Linked DNA regions of Homo sapiens: region 1 is linked to region 2. The links come from fine-mapping of genetic effects on gene expression. A gene starts in region 2. The other region holds a variant in brackets. All regions are shown on one strand. Distances are from middle to middle.

The links.
Region 1: its variant is fine-mapped to the expression of SNX11 in whole blood (INTERVAL, PIP above 0.99).

What each region holds. Positions count from the first base shown.
Region 1 is chr17:48,038,936-48,047,228 of GRCh38, forward strand. It overlaps NFE2L1-DT (NFE2L1 divergent transcript), which reads right to left. Exons shown (of 2, transcript NR_170231.1): 2 at 7,946-8,035. It also overlaps a transcript of COPZ2 not described here. Among named protein-coding and RNA genes, the nearest start is that of NFE2L1-DT, 5.0 kb to the right of the region's middle. RefSeq lists enhancers at 1-28, 8,196-8,293. The variant T/C (reference allele first, on the strand shown) is at 4,028.
Region 2 is chr17:48,103,494-48,111,493 of GRCh38, forward strand. It overlaps SNX11 (sorting nexin 11), which reads left to right and starts at 4,273. Exons shown (of 7, transcript NM_013323.3): 1 at 4,273-4,345. RefSeq lists silencers at 4,279-4,438, 5,973-6,146.

The DNA.
Region 1 (8,293 bases), 64 kb before region 2:
TCTTTCATTGCACTTTTTTCAATCTCTAAATATTATTTTTACTAATATTGCTTGTTTGAGACACGGTCTCACTCTGTTGCCCAGGCTGGAGTGCAGTGACTCGATCTGGGCTCACTGCAGCCTCAACCTCCTGGGCTCAGGCAATCCTCCCATCTCAGTCTCCCGAGTAGCTGGGACCACTGGTGCATGCAACCACTCCCAGGTAATTTTTTATTTTTTTATTTTTTTTATTTTTGTAGAAACAAGGTCTCAAGTCTGGGCTCAATGGCTCACATCTGTAATCCCAGCACTTTGGGAGGCTGAGGTGGGCAGAAGGCTTGAGCCCAGGAGTTCCAGACCAGCCTGGGCAACATGGTAAGATCTAGTCTCTACTAAAACTACAAAGAAATTAGCCAGGTAGGGTGGTGTGACCTGTAGTCCCAGCTACTCAGAAGGCTGAGGTGGGAGAATCACCCGAGTCTGGGGGTTCAAGGCTGCAGAGCCATGATCATGCCACTGTGCTCCAGCCTGGGCAATGGGAGTGAGAATCTGTTTCAAAAAAAAAAAAAAGAAGAAGAAGAAGAAGAGAAAAAGAAAGGAAGAGGAGGAGGAGGGGGAGGAGGGTGATCATGATCAAGGTCTCACTATGTTGCCCAGGCTGGTCTTGAACGCCTAGGCTCAAGTGATCCTCCCACCTCAGCCTCCCAAAGTGTTGGGATACAGGCGTGAACCACCATTCCCAGCCTTTACTAGTTTGTTTATAAGTGTTCCTTCTCCCCGCCCAGACTTTGAGCCCTGCAAGAACCAATGAATGTGACTTTTTGTTTGTTTGTTTTTTTGTTTTGAGACAGGGTCTTGCTCTATCACCCAGGCTGGAGTACAGTGGTGTGATCATAGTTCACCGCAGCCTCAAATTCCCAGTGTCGGCCGGGCACGGTGGCTCACGCCTGTAATTCCAGCTCTTTGGAAGGCCGAGACAGGCGGATCACGAGGTCAGGAGTTTGAGACCAGCCTGGCCAACATGGTGAAACCCCATCTCTACTAAAAATACAAAAAAATTAGCCGGGGGTGGTGGCAGGTGCCTGTAATCCCAGCTACTCGGGAGGCTGAGGCAGGAGAATCACTTGAACCTGGGAGGTGGAGGTTGCAGTGACCCGAGACCGCACTACAGCACTCCAGCCTGGCCAAGAGAGCGAGAACCTGCTACCCACCCACCCACCCACACACACACACACACACAAACAACTCCCAGGATCAAGCCATTCTCCTGTCTCAGTCTCCTGAGTAGGTGGGACGATACACACGTGCCACCATGCCTGGTTATTTATTATTATTTTTTTTAAAGGCAGGGTCTTGCTGTGTTGTCCAGGCAGGTCTTGAACTCCTGGGATCAAGCCCTCCTCCTGCCTCGGCCTCCCAAAGCCCTGAGATTACAGGTGTGACCCACCTCACCTGGCCAATTATGTTTGTCTTGTTCACTGTGGAATCCCTAGTGTTTCTTACAAGGCTTGGTGACAGATTTTTTTTTTTTTTTTTTGAGACGGAGTCTTGCTCCGTCACCAGGCTGGAGTGCAGTGGCGAGATCTCGGCTCACTGCAACCTCCGCCTCACGGGTTCCAGTGATTCTCCTGCCTCAGCCTCCCGAGTAGTTGGGACTACAGGTGCACACCACCACGCCCAGCTAATTTTTGTATTTTTAGTAGAGACAGGGTTTCACCATGTTGGCCAGGATGGTCTCGATCTCTTGACCTTGTGATCTGCTTGCCTCGGCCTCCCAAAGTGCTGGGATTACAGGCATGAGCCACTGCACCTGGCCGATGACAGATATTTAATAAGCATTTGTGAAGTAAATGAATAAAGGAATTCAGGATGAGGGAGATCATGTATAAATATTCACAAATACCAAATTTTAACTAATAATAATTAAAATGTACCTATCAATGATACCATATTGGCTGGGTGTGGTGGCTCATACCTGTAATCCCAGCACTTTGAGAGGCCAAGGCGGGCAGATCACTTGAGACCAGGAGTTCGAGACCAGCCTGGCCAACATGGTGAAACCCTGATTCTACTAAAAACACACAAAAATCAGCCAGGCATGGTGGCGAGTGCCTGTAGTCCCAGCTACTTGGGAGGTGAAGGCAGGAGAATCATTTGCACCCAGGAGGCAGAGGCTGTAGTGAGCCAAGATCACACCACTGCAGCCTCAGCAACAGAGCAAGACTCTATCTCCAAAAAAAAAAAAAAAAAAAAGACAACATATTTTATGTGCTGTACAAATATTTATTGAGTGCTTAGTATGTACCAGATATTTTTCTAGCCACTGGGACACAATAGTAGACAAAAGAAAAATTTTGCTCTCATGGAACTTACAATCAAGTGTTTGTGTATGTACATGCGTGCGTTTCTGTGCAAGATATAATACACAAATAAATGGGAAAAGTAGATATTATATGAGTTGGGGATAAGTGCTGCAAAGAAAAATAGAGCAGAAATGGGATGTGGAATGTGAGGGGTAAGGGACAGGCAAGCCAGAAAGCCATTTTCATAGTCCTCTGAGAAAACCTTTAACAAGGTGACATTTGAACAAAGAGCTAAAGGAAAGGAGGAAGCAGGCCATGCAGACATCTGAGGAAGCATCTACTGACCCTCCCTATATGATGACTTAGAAGGCACATCTGAACCTTTCTTGCAGGCTATCAGTTATAATAGGGAACATAATGACACTATTTGATAACAGCAGCCAGGGAAAAGACCCAGCATTTGGGCATTTTATTTCTTCGGATTCCAGATCATCAGAAGTTATGTCAATGGTCATGCTGGCTGGGTATGTTATTTCTAAAAAATACTGATTTGGTTATTTTGATGTCTTAATATTTCTGTGAGCTAGTCCATTTTTTTTTTTTTTTTGGCTCATATTTACAAGGACAGCACCAAAAAGCCTCCAGGAGCATTTCTCAGCCTCTGTTTGGCTATGGTACCCACTATGAAAGACCAGCAGCCTCCAGAAGGGACAGAGGAAGACCTGGGAAGATAGGGGACTTAGGGGGCTGGCTCCATAGGGGAGGTGGGGAAGGAGTCAGTTATACACGTTAGGGATGGGAAGGCACTGGAGAGGGGCCAAGGGGATAGGAATGAGAGAAGGCTGGGGAAGGAAGCTTAGGAACCACAAAGTTCTCATCACCCCCACATCTATCACTGTTGTTGCTTTTTCTTTTTCTTTTTTTCTTTTTTTTGAGAAGGAGTTTCACTCTTGTTGCCCAGGCTGGAGTGCAATGGGGTGATATTGGCTCACTGCAATCTCCGCCTCCCAGGTTCAGGCGATTCTCCTGTCTCAGTCTCCTGAGTAGCTGGGATTACAGGTATGCGCCACCACACCCAGCTAATTTTTTTTATTTTTAGTAGAGACAGGGTTTCACTATGTTGTTTGGCTGGTCTTGAACTCCTGACCTCAGGTGATCCGCCTGCCTTGGCCTCCCAAAGTGCTGGGATTACAGGCGTGAACCACCGCGCCTGGCCTTGTTGTTCCTCTTCTTAAAATCTCTTTACATCTTTTCTTTTTTTTGAAATGGAGTCTCACTCTGTCGCCCAGGCTGGAGTGCAGTAGCACGATCTCGGCTCACTGCAACCTCTGCCTCCCGGGTTCAAGCAATTCTCCTGCCTCAGCCTCCCAAGTAGCAGGGATTACAGGTGCGTGCCACCATGCCCGGCTAATTTTTGTATTTTTAGTAGAGACGGGGTTTCACCATGTTAGCCAGGTTGTTCTCCAACTCCTGACCTTAAGTGATCTGCCCACCTTGGCCTCCCAAAGTGCTGGGATTATAGGCGTAAGCCACCGTGCCTGGCCCATAAAATCTCTTTACATCTTAGTTTAGTGGTGAATAAGTAAATTCAGAGCCAAGTTCAACTTTTCAAGGACAAGATTCTCCCCAATGATAACCCCTCCCCAAACTCCTTCAACAGAGACCCCAGAACTTCTTTCTCTCCATGACAACCGCTTCCCCACACATCCTGAAGTGCACCTTTAATGCAGTTTCACATAAACATG[T/C]GAGCTATGTGTGTCCAGTATTGGGACAGTGTCTTCCACAGAGCATGGCCCTAAGAGGACTTTCCAGTTTAAGGCTGGCAGCACATGAGAAGCATGCACGTGCAGCAGCAGACTCGGCAGGAGAGCCTCCCCAGCTCGAGGAAGCCAAGTTGGGTTCAAAAAGAATGCAGCCTTCATGTTTCTCTGCCCTCTACTCCCTTCGGGTAGGCACAGTAGGATGGAGAGGTGGGCTGTGCACATCCCTACCCAGCTGGAACCTGTGAAGTAGTGCACTCAGAATTGGTCCCTGCCCTTTGGAGTCCCAGGAGGCAGGTGATTCAAAGCAGGTTCTCCTCTGGGCCTTGGTATAGCTTGAAGGGGAGACCATTTCATTTCCTCTGAGTCACCCTCCTGCTGCCACATTTCTGTGCTGTCTGTCCTAGGATTTCAGCATCTGTTCTTATGTGACGAGAAGAAACAGCTCCCTTGGGTACCAGCCTCTCTCTATCCCTCCTGCTTAATGTCAAGAGGGGGAGGTGTGTGTGGAATATGAGGCGTGGAAGTGTGTACTGGTGGCATCCTCTAGAGAAAACTAAAGCTTCCATGCTCTGTCTGTAGGATGGGTTTCTAGTAGACCATTCTAAGGACAGCTCTCATTTCTTCATCGCCTTTGGCTTTCTCTGAGATAAAGTTGTAGGGTGGGTGGAGAGAGGATTATTCAAGACAGGGCCTTATACTCAGCTCTTCCTCCAGGCATGAATGGCTTTATACACATGACCTGATTTTTAAGATTTATGAATATGTACATTGTTATCTCCATTTAGCTCGGGATGGCCCAACTAGTAAGAAACAGAGCCAGATTTTCGAACCCACCTATGAGTCCAAAACATCCACTCCTCCTACCTCTTAATGGCAGCTCCTTGAGTGTGACATGTCACACAGAGCTATATGAAGAACACTACCTGGTATTGTTTGAGACAACATAGCAAGACATACAGGACAGTTGAACTCAGCTTCAAAAAATGTTACACTAAGACACTAATGAACAATGAGGCATTTTCATTGTAGAGGTGAAGAAAGAACATTTTAGGGTTGAGAATGAGCACACCCTAAAAGTCAAACGGGCCGGGTGCAGTGGCTCACGCCTGTAATCCCAGCACTTTGGGAGGCTGAGGTGGGCAGATCACTTGAGGTCAGGAGTTTGAGACCAGCCTGGCCAACATGGCAAAACCCTGTCTCTACTAAAAATACAAAAATTAGCCAAGCGTGGTGGTGTGCACCTTTAATACCAGCCACTCAGGAGGCTGAAGCAGGAGAATCGCTTGAACTGGGGAGGCAGAGGTTGCAGTGAGCTGAGATGGTGTCACTGCACTCCAGCCTGGACCACAGAGCGACTCCATCTCAAAAAAAAAAGTCAGATAATCATTCTAGTCTGTGTTCCCGTATTACCACAATCTTTTGCTTTTTTTTTTTTTTTTTTTTTTTTACCCCAATGTGGATTCTTGCTCCAACCTAGTGATTCTCTACTCTGGCTGTGCATAAGAATCACCTGAAGAGCTTTTACAAAATACTGATGTCCAATTCTGCTCTGGGCAGCTGTTTTAATTGGTGTGGGGTGGGACCTGGGCATTGGTATTTCTTACGAGCTACCCACCTGGGTGATTCTAATATGCAGCCAGGATTGAGAAGCAATCTTCTAAGAGTGTGGTAGTGGTGCATAGGAAAGAGGCTGGCTTGCAGGAGAGCTTTACTTTTTGGTGGTTTAATGGTAACAAGCTTGCTGATGATGTTTACCATATAAGAGAGAGGGCCATATGTCCGGATTTGCCAGAAAACTAATTGATTTCTTTGCAAAACATGCTAACATTTAGTATTGACATGATGTATTCCTACCATCTCTCAGGACTGTAAGGAAATCTCAGGCAATCATCTATCTAATCTATTCCCCTGGATTAGATGAGGTTACAGAGTAAGAAATACTTATATGGATTAGCAAAACTTAAAGACATGTTTTTCTTTTTATTATTTTTTTTGAGACAGGGTCTTACTCTGTTGCCCAGACTGGAGTGCAATGGCGCAATCACAGCTTACTGCACCCTCAACCTCCCCAGGATCGGGTGATCTTTCCACCTCAGCCTCCCCACTAGCTAGGACTACAGGCATGAACCACCACGCCTGGCTAATTTTTGTATTTTTTTTGTAGAGATGGGTTTTCACTATGTTGGCCAGGCTGGTCTCAAACTCCTGGCTCAAGTGATCTGCCCACCTGGGCCTCTCGAAGTGCTGGGGTTACAGGTGTGAGCCACTGTGCCTGGCCTTAGAGACATTTTTAGAGGAAAGATAATGGACAACCAGAATGGCAGAAAGCCTGGGTTTCCCTTTTAGGGAAAAAGCAATTTCACTGTTCCAGAAGAAATCAGAGCCCCAGCCAGCCTGCCCTCCCACAGCCCCTTCTCTGAGGATTCCTGGCATGTGTCATCCTCCAGGGATGACTGCAGGATGGATGTGGCTGTTGGCGGCAGCAGCAGCTTTTCCTACCAGGGAAGCTGGGTCGGTAGACACTACACTGCTATTCCTGGGGTGGGGGTGGGGATTTCCGTGTATGTTTTATAGTTAGCTGGCCCCAAATCCGTGTGCTTTAGACCTAACCCTCTTCTCGGCTTCCACTGCCTTCTTCTCTCTCCTGCCCAGCCTGGAGTCGCAGGGGCAAGGCCTAGTTTTACAATGGCTGCCAGCCTTTCCCTTAGGGAGCCACATGCATGCGCTCACTTTTTCCAGTGGTCTTCTCAGTCTGATTTAATGGATATACCGGGACTGATGACACATCAGCATGGGATCCTTCTTTTGCTTCTTGGGTAACTGTCCTATTAACAGCTGTCCCAGGCAAAGGGAGGGGGAGAGTGTTGGGGGAAAGGAGGGGGTGGCTTCCTGGGTGAAGAAGGACACACCCTGGGTTTTACAAGGTTAATCAGCAGGTTCTGGGAAAGCTTGCACCTGCTCAGACTTGATCTGGAACTCTAGACAGAATGGAAGACAGTCTTTCTGTCTCCACTCCCTTCCATGGAGCATCAAATATCCTGGGCGCCCACACCCTGCCAGGCCTAGGCCTGCTGTTGCGACTGAGTTTGTCTCTACACCTTTACTCTCTTCGGCCCTTGCAACTCTTTCCCTTTTTCTGCCCACCTTTGTGAAATGGCTAAGCAGGAAACTCCACAGATAAACGATTGTCCAGTTTTAGTTTGAACTGTTAGGACTGAAAATTGTTCTGTATTTTTCTGTCAAAAAAAGACCAACTTTAGTATGCTCTTTTCACCTTCTCAAAATTGTCTTGTAGTTAAACACTGTAGTTGAGCCTTTATATCTCTCAATTTTATGTTTTGTTTTGTTGAGGAAGCATCTCACTGTTGCCCAGACTGGCACCATCATAGCTCACTGCAGCCTCAATCTCCCAGCTCAAGAAATCCTCCCACCTCAGCCTCCTGAGTAGTTGGGACTATAGATGTGTGGCACCAAGCCCAGCTTGTTTTTTTGTAGCGACGGGGGTCTCACTATGCTGCCCAGGCTGGTCAAGCAATCCTCCCGCCTCGGCCTCCCAAGGTGCTACTGTGAGCCACTGCGCCGGGCCCAGTTCTATGTTTAAAATACTTCCTTCTCAACCTTATTTATTTTTAGAGTTGATGGCCACACCTAAATATTCCTCCTTTCTTATACAATACCAGTCTTTATCTTCATTGTCTCACTACTTCGGGGACTGAATGGTCTCCTATTTTATTGTTAACATGCCATATCCTTCAAAACTGTACATCCTCCAAGGTGTGGTTAATTTCTGCTTTTAACAGGAAAATCAGAGGCCTGCCTGCTTGAGTCCCCCTTCAAGTACTCAGTATTTGAGTGTCTACTAAGTTATAACAGTTAACGCACAAAATTCTAGTCCTCATGTTGTTTATACTCAGGTATTTATTGGGAGACACGCGTCAGTAGTCCCTGATAAATGGAAAGATCGCTTGAGTCCAGGAGTTCCAGTCCAGCCTAGAATAGGTAAAACATGCTCTCTGAATTAGTCTTTGAAACTGGTAAACTAGCTCAGAAGTTTTTTTAAGAATTCCATGAGTGGTTTGCTGGTGTACGTTTATTATATGCAGTGAAAGTACTTAATCTGCAAACCACCCCAAATTAAGCCCCTAACTCGCAAGCACAAAATGGACTCGATTATTTACTGAGTTATCAGTTGGCCTTGTCCTTAGTTGTACAGGGACTAATGACTCACCTATAAATAATGGGCTCTTC
Region 2 (8,000 bases):
GTTTTTAACACCATGAAGGTCCGCGGCTTCATTGTTTAAGTCAGGGAGACCACAAACCCACCGGAAGGAATCAACTCCGGACACAAAGAGAGCAATTCTTCCTGAAACATTTGGGCTGGGTTTCTAGGAAGAAGCAAGTGAGAAGCAAGCATCTCCTCACTTCCTCCTGTAGTGTACTGTTTTTGACTGATGATGATGAGAAAATTAGTTGTAATGATAATTAGCTACTATTAATGAGTGCTTTTTTTGTTTTTTTTCCCTGAGGTGGAGTCTTGCACTGTCGCCCAGGCTGGAGTGCAATGGCAAGATCACGGCTCACTGCAACCTCCGCCTCCCGGGTTCATGCACTTCTCCTGCCTCAGCCTCCCAAGTAACTGGGATTACAAGTGCATGCCACCATGCACAGCTAATTTTTTTGTATTTTAGTAGAGACGGGGGTTTCACCATGTTGCCCAGGCTGGTCTTGAACTCCTGAGTTCAGGCATCCACCCGCCCAAAGTGCTAAGATTACAGGCGTGAGCCACCACTTCTGGTTTATTTTTTATTTTATTTTATTTATTTATTATTATTATTATTTTTTGAGACGGAGTCTAACTCTGTCACCCAGGCTGGAGTGCAGTGGCATGATCCGGTTCACTGCAACCTCCACCTCCCAGGTTCAAGCAATTATCCAGCCTTGGTCTCCCGAGTAGCTGGGATTACAGGTGCCCACCACCATGCCCAGCTAATTTTTTTGTTTCCCGAGACTGAGTCTTGCTCTGTCACCCAGGCTGGAGGGCAGTGGTGAGATCTCGGCTCACTGCAACCTCCACCTCCCGGGTTCAAGCAATTATCCAGCCTCAGTCTCCTGAGTAGTTGGGTTTACAGTCGCCCGCCACCGTGCCTGGCTAATTTTTGTAATTTTAGTAGAGGGAGGTTTCACCATGTTGGCCAGACTGGTCTTGAACTCCTGACCTCAAGTGGTCCCACTGCCTCCGCCTACCAAAGTGCTGGGATTACAGGTGTGAGCCACCGCACCCAGCCTTAATTTTTGTATTTTTAGTAGAGACGGGTTTTCACTGTGTTTTCAGGCTGGTCTTGAACTCCTAACCTTGTGATCCCCCCGTTGCAGCCTCCCAAAGTGCTGGCGTTACAAGTGTGAGCCACCACACCCGGCCTATTTTTTTTTTTTTTTTTTTTTGAGACAGGATGTTACTCTCTCTCCTAGGCTGAAGTGCAGTAGTGCAATCACGGTTCACTGTAGTCTCAACTTCCCAGGCCCAAGTCATCTTTCCCCCTCAGCCTCCTGAGTAGCTTTGAGCCACACCTTACTCAGCTAATTTTTTCTATTTTGTAGAGCCAGAGTCTTGTCACATTGTCCAGGTTGGTCTGGAACGCCTGGGCTCAAGCAGGCCTTGACCTGTCTCGGCCTCCCAAAGTGCTGGGATTACAGATGTGAGCCACCATGCCTGGCCATAAATTCTTGATTGATTTAATCTCATTTCTATCTAACACCCAAACCATATTTCTGTCTACATAAAATGCTGCCATCCCTAATTCCTTGTATTGAGCTGAATTCTGCTCCCCATGGAGATGCCACCTATTTTCCCTAATTCTGGCATCTGTAGCCACACAGTAAGCCTTATCTTTCTTTCATATGTTTCTTCTAATATTGAAGTTCAGCCATCATGTTCCCTGAGGTCTCTATTTAAATGTCATCATTTTCCTAAACTGTACATTACAGGGCAACAGTTTCAGATGTATCATATTTATTGTGTTAGTAAATTCTGGCTCTTATATGTGTGTTTCAAGGTGGAGAGGGCCATCACTGCCTTTGTCCTGTATACCATTCTTTTTTTTTTTTTTTTTTTTTTTTGAGACGGAGTCTCACTTTGTCACTAGGCTGGAGTGCAGTGGCATGATCTTGGCTCACTGAAGCCTCTGCCTCCCGGGTTTAAGTGATTCTCCTGCCTCAGTCTCCCGACTAGCTGGAATTACAATCACACACCACCAGATGGTCTCAATCTCTTGAGAGTTCAAGACCAGGCTGGGCAATATAGTGAGACCTCATCTATACAAATAATAATAAAAAATTAGTCGGGCATGGTGGCACACACCTGTGGTCCCAGCTACTTAGGAGGCTTGGGTGGCAGGATCACTTGAGCCCAGGAGGTTGAGGCTGTCTTAATATTAAGACATGTGAGGCTAGGCACGGTGGCTCATGCCTGTAATCCCAGCACTTTGGGAAGCCAAGGCGGGTGGATCATGAGGTCAGGAGTTCAAGACCAGCCTGACCAATATGGTGAAACCCCATCTCTACTAAAAATACAAAAATTAGCTGGGCATGGTGGCGCGTGCCTGTAATCCCAGCTAGTCAGTAGGCAGTTTCTTGAGACTTTCCTGATGAGATCAGTGATGAATTTAATAAATGTGATTTTTTTTTACATTGAATAAATGCATCAACATTGGCTGATCTGCATAACTCTGTACCAGTATTTTCTAAATGGCTTGACTCCCTATCACACTTAACCTTTAAGAAATGACTCCATCTCCAAGGTGGTGTGTACTTAAAAATAAATAAATAAACACTTCCAGTCTCGGCAACATAGGGAGACTCTATGTTGTATAAAATTTTAAAAACTTAAAAAATTATCTGTATAAAAATTTTAAAAATTAACCGAGTATGGTGGCACACGCCTGCGGTCCCAGCAGCTCCAAGGGCTGAGGAGGGAGGATGGCTTGAGCCCTGGAGGTTGAGGCTGCAGTGAGCTGTGATCCTGCCACTGCACTCCAGCCTGGGCAACAGAGCAGGACCCTGTCTCAAAAAAGCAAAGAAAAGTTACCATTTGTTGAATTTGGGTAGTATCAAAGAAGAGTATTCAGAATTGTTTGAGAAGGCTAAAAATACTCTTCCTTTTCTCAACTACATAGCTATATAAGGCTGAATTTTCTTAATGTACCAAAACAACAGAGCACAACAGAGAAAGGGGAAGCACATAGGAGAACCCAGCTATCTTCCTTTTTATTTATTTATTTTTTACAATGGAGTCTCCCAGGCTGGAGTGTAATGGCGCGATCTTGTCTCACTGCAACCTCCGATTCCTGGGTTCAAGCAATCCCCCTGTGTCAGTCTCCTGAATAGCTGGGATTACAGGTGCCCATGACCACGCCCAGCTAATTTTTGTAGTTTTAGTGGAGACGGGGTTTCACCATGTTGGCCAGGCTGGTCTCGAACTCCTGACCTCAGGTAATCCACCCGCCTCCGCCTCCCAAAGTGGTGGAAGTACAGGCGTGAGGCACTGTGCCCGGCCCCTTTCTTTTCTTTCCTCTCTTTTCTTCCTTTTAGCTCTCTCTCTTTTTTTCAGACAGGGTCTTGCTCTGCAGTGATCAGGGCTCACTGCAGCCTCGAACCCCTGGGTTCAAGCCATCCTCCTGTCTCAGCCTCCCGAGTAGCTGGGACTACAGGCGCGTGTCACCATGCCCGGCTAATTTTTAAAATATTTTGCAGAGGCGAGGGTCTCCCTAAGTTGGTAGGGCGTGTCTCAAGCCTGGCCTCAAGCGATCCTCCCGCCTCGGCCTCCCTAATAGTATTGGGATTACAGGCGTGAGCCACCGCGCTAGGCTTGCTGAAATTATCTTTAAATAAGTTGTTAAAAGACCACCAACACATTGAACGGCTTTCTCTTGCTCCCTAGCTGCATGATATTGCTTCGAGTTTGTTTCGGTGTGAGCAATCTGAGTCGCCGGACCCTCTCGAGTCTGACTTTCACTCTGACAATCGGTCCGTGGCTTTACGAATCTGAATCGGAGTCCCCTTGATAGCTCCGCTGGGGAACAGCAAACTACGAGGTTCAAATGGTGGCTCTCGGGACTTAGTGAGGATCCAGGGATGTGGGCTTCCTAAAGCCCCGAACCTCCCACACTGCAGACTATCCCTCGCATAGCGAGAACAAGAGTAACAACCCCCTTACACCCCTCTGCTCCCGGGACCCACTGGCTGCCCGTCGCTGACGCCCCCTGGCCGCTGATTGGCTTCCCCTGACAGTGGGCGGAACGCGGCCCCGGATTGGATATCCATTCGCCGTCCCTCACCCGGCACCTGCGTGCACTCTCCGGCGTCCCAAGTGAGTGGAGGGGGGATCCCGACTCCAGTCCGGGGCCTTGGCCAGCGGAGCCGCGCTATTCGGAAGCGGGAATCCCACTCAGAGCCCGGGCCTGTAGGGGCGGGGCGTCCCGGGCACCCGGGATTGGGGCGTCTCCCGTCGTGCACCGGGGCACCGGCGACTCACCCGGAAGGAGAAGCCGTGATCTGGCTATATGGTGGGGCGCGGGCGGTGTCGCTGTGGGGAGCTGGTGCTGTTCTCAGGTGAGAGGGCGTGGGCGGGGCCTGGGGAGTGGGTGCTGCTCTCCTGTGAGGGGGCGTGGGCTTGAGCGTCAGTAGTGGCACTCGGGATGGTGGCATCGCTTTACATCCTAGGGAGGGACTCTCTTACCACCCGGGATTAAGGCAAGGGCTTGCTCGGGATCCAAGAAAGGAAACCCGGCTTTTCAGTTTACCTTCAAAGTGTATCTTTCACTTCCTACCCCCCAAGCTTAATCGGAAAGAAAGAAGGACCATGTGGACCTTTCGGTCCTAGTTTGTTGAGAATGGAGAAAGAGTGGCCGTAGTAAAAGACTCTGGGGACATTTACTTAAATGGCTAAGACTGGGGGCAATGGCGAGTATTTTACGTGGACACGGGAGACTTGGCGGTAGATTGTGGTCGCCTTTGTTACTTACCTTCCAAGTGAAAGGCGTACGATTAGAGATGGACAAAAAGATGGAGCATAACTGCTTGGTTGAGATCACACAGAGCTTGGTCAGAACTGGGAGCTTCCTCTGTTTAGTACCTGTGATATTTATAATTGGAGCGAGAGCTTTTTGAATTGCTTTCTGCCATCTGGCACTAAAGGCTCAAGATTGAGTAAGAAGGGACGGTAGTCTCAGTAGTTCCATCTACTTTTATCACCTGATTTGTTTCTTAACCTGTCTCTTGAAGTTGTTTAAATGGGAGAGAAAATAAATGGTGAGACTAAAGCCTTGCATTGTTACTATATTAGAAAGCTTTACGATGAATCTACTTTGTAAACAGCAAACAATCGGGTACTCACCAGAGCTACTGGTGCTGGTACAGGTGAAGAAAGTAAAGGAAACTTCAGATGTGGTTGAAAGGGCCCAGAAAATGTAGTTAACACTAAGTTATGTAACTAGCTATGGTCACTGACTCTAGCCTTATTTGGATGAAGTACAGATCCATCTCCCAGATCAGAGAACTAAAGTTAGGAACTTCCTGCTGCTTCTCCAGAGGCAGAACTGAGCTTTTTCTTTTGAGGAGTGGTATCTGTGGGGAGGAATCTAATGGAGAAGAGTGGTTGCTAGAAATTACTACTTGGTGTCTAGGTTTTTGTATTTGTTCCAGTGTTTATTTGTTTGTTTTTTGAGACAGGGTCTTGCTCTGTCGCCCAGGCTGGAGTGCAGTGGTGTGATCTTGGCTCATTGCAGACTCCGCCTCCTGGGTTCCAGCAATTCTCATGCCTCAGTCTCCCGAGTAGCTGGGAGTACAGGCCTGTGCCACCATGCCCAGCTAATTTTTGTATTTTTAGTAGAGACGAAGTTTTGCCTTGTTGGCCAGGCTGTTCTTGAACTCCTGGCCTCAAGTGTTCTGCCCGCCTCAGCTTCCCAAAGTGTTGGATTACAGGCGTGAGCCACTGGGCCAGCCCAGTGTTTTTAAGGACAGTTACAACTGAAACTTTCTTTTTTTTTTTTTGAGACGGAGTCTCACTCTGTTGCCAGGATGGAGTGCAGTGGTGCGATCTCGGCTCACTGCAACCTCCACCTCCTGGGTTCAACTGATTCTCCTGCCTCAGTCTCCCGAGTAGCTGGGACTACAGGCACGCGCCACCATGCCCAGCTAATTTTTGTATTTTTAGTAAAGAAGGGGTTTCACCATGTTGGCCAGGATGGTCTCAATCTCTTGACCTCGTATTTCGCCCGCCTCGGCCTCCCAAAGTGCTGGGATTACAGACGTGAGCCACCGCACCCGGCCCATCTGGAGGTTTTTTGTTTTTTGTGTTTTTTTTTTTGACAACGGAGTCTTGCACTGTCGCCTGGGCTGGAGTGCAGTGGCGCGATCTCGGCTCACTGCAACCTCCGCCTCCCGGGTTCAAGTGATTCTCCTGCTTCAGTCTCCCAAGTAGGTGGGATTACAGGCGCCTGCCACCACGCCCGCTAATTTTTTTTATTTTTAGTAGAGACGGAGTTTCATTACGTTGGCCAGGCTGGTGTCTGGAGGTTTTTAAAAAGCCAGTTCATAGCTATTTGTTTCTGAGTGGTATTGGCCCCAAAGGAAAGAAGAATTTCTTCATGAAGGTAGTGCAGGGCCCTATACAAACTTCCTGAGACCAAGGGTATGATGATCATTTCGTTCCTAAATTATGGTCCTGAATTTGACAAACCTTTTTCAAGGCACAAAAGATGTATGAGCTCCACTGAGTGGATGACTGTGATTTCCTTGTCATCGTCTTTCCCGTTGTTAGTTTTGTTTAAAGACACTTCAGAATATTTAACTCTCTGCTCCTGTGCTGGCAGTTTATCCAATGCCTGCAAAGAGAAGAGAAAAAAAAAACTTAAGGAGGTTCATTGTTCACAGCAAATAGGTCTGCTCTTTTTGGTCTCAGACATTTGACTGATATCTGGAATGTTATATATGGGTTGTTATGGAATTGGAATTTCCCACCTTTCAGTTCAGGACCCCTTGGAGGTGGTGGCTGCATCAGATAAAAATCAGATTGTCAGCAAGAATACCATTTAAGATGGTACTGAAATCACAAAACCTTAGGTTTGCTCAATATTGTGTAGCCCAATTTTGTCATGGACCATGCAGCTTCGTTTCTGCATGCAGTGTTTGTCTGTGGAGATACTTCTGGTATATTGGAGAGAATTGAAAAAGTGGTTTGCTTTGCTAATTTCATGGTGTAAATGAGTTCCCCTTCTTTTGAAATGTTAGCCTTGTGTTAGCAAAACATAAAATAGAAGGAAACTCATTACACAGTGTTCTAATGGTAAGGCAGAACTAATAAGAGAATGTGTTTAAAATTAATTGTGGGACTGTAAAAATGAGTGGGTATGTGAATGAGTACGGGATGGGGGAGGAGAGGGAGGGCTTAGAGATATTAGAGATAGTCTTGTTTTCCCAGGAGCCAGCCTGGATCATTTGTTGGCAGTACATATTGGCTGAAGTCAGTTTTCATTTCAAGGTAAATTGGAAAGGGAAATTAAACCTTATTGTTTCTCTCTTAAGAGAGAAGGGGGTGCAGGCGGCAGCCAGGGTGGATGCTGTTGGAATAGTTGTAGAAGTAACAAGATTAGTGCTGTATTTTAACAGAAGGTGACATCATGGGCCCCATTGGACTTGAGTAACCCCGTGCTGCAGCCTTCATGGTCCCCTTGTCGGAGTGGGTGATGTCGCTATACACGTGAACTGCCACATTGGGGAAAATCAGGGGCTGAGGCTTTAATGAATCTTTACAAAGGAGCAGAACGCATCCTGAGTCGACCTGTGCAGCTGTGGGGTGCTTGGACAGAAGTACAAACCGGATGGCATGTCAGGAGAGGAAGTAATTAGAACAATTGGCTCGGGTTCCAGAGTATGGATTGGATAAGGGGAAGGTCCCAACTGGGCAACCCACTCAGGTGCTCCTTGGAGTGCTCTAGCTCTATGATTCACCTGTGGGGAGTTGACTGGTTGTTAGTGAGACTGGGAGAAATGCAGAAGCATTGGTGTTTGTGGGGACTTGGTTGTCTCTAAACAGCCGGGAGGGGGTGCTGTTAGGCTCGCTTTCAAAGCTGTGATCTGGCAGGGCGTGGTGGCTCCCGCCTGTAATCCCAGCACTTTGGGAGGCCGAGGAGGGCGGATCACTTGAGGTCAGGAGTTCGAGACCAGCCTGACCAACATGGAGAAACCCCGTCTCTACTAAAAATAC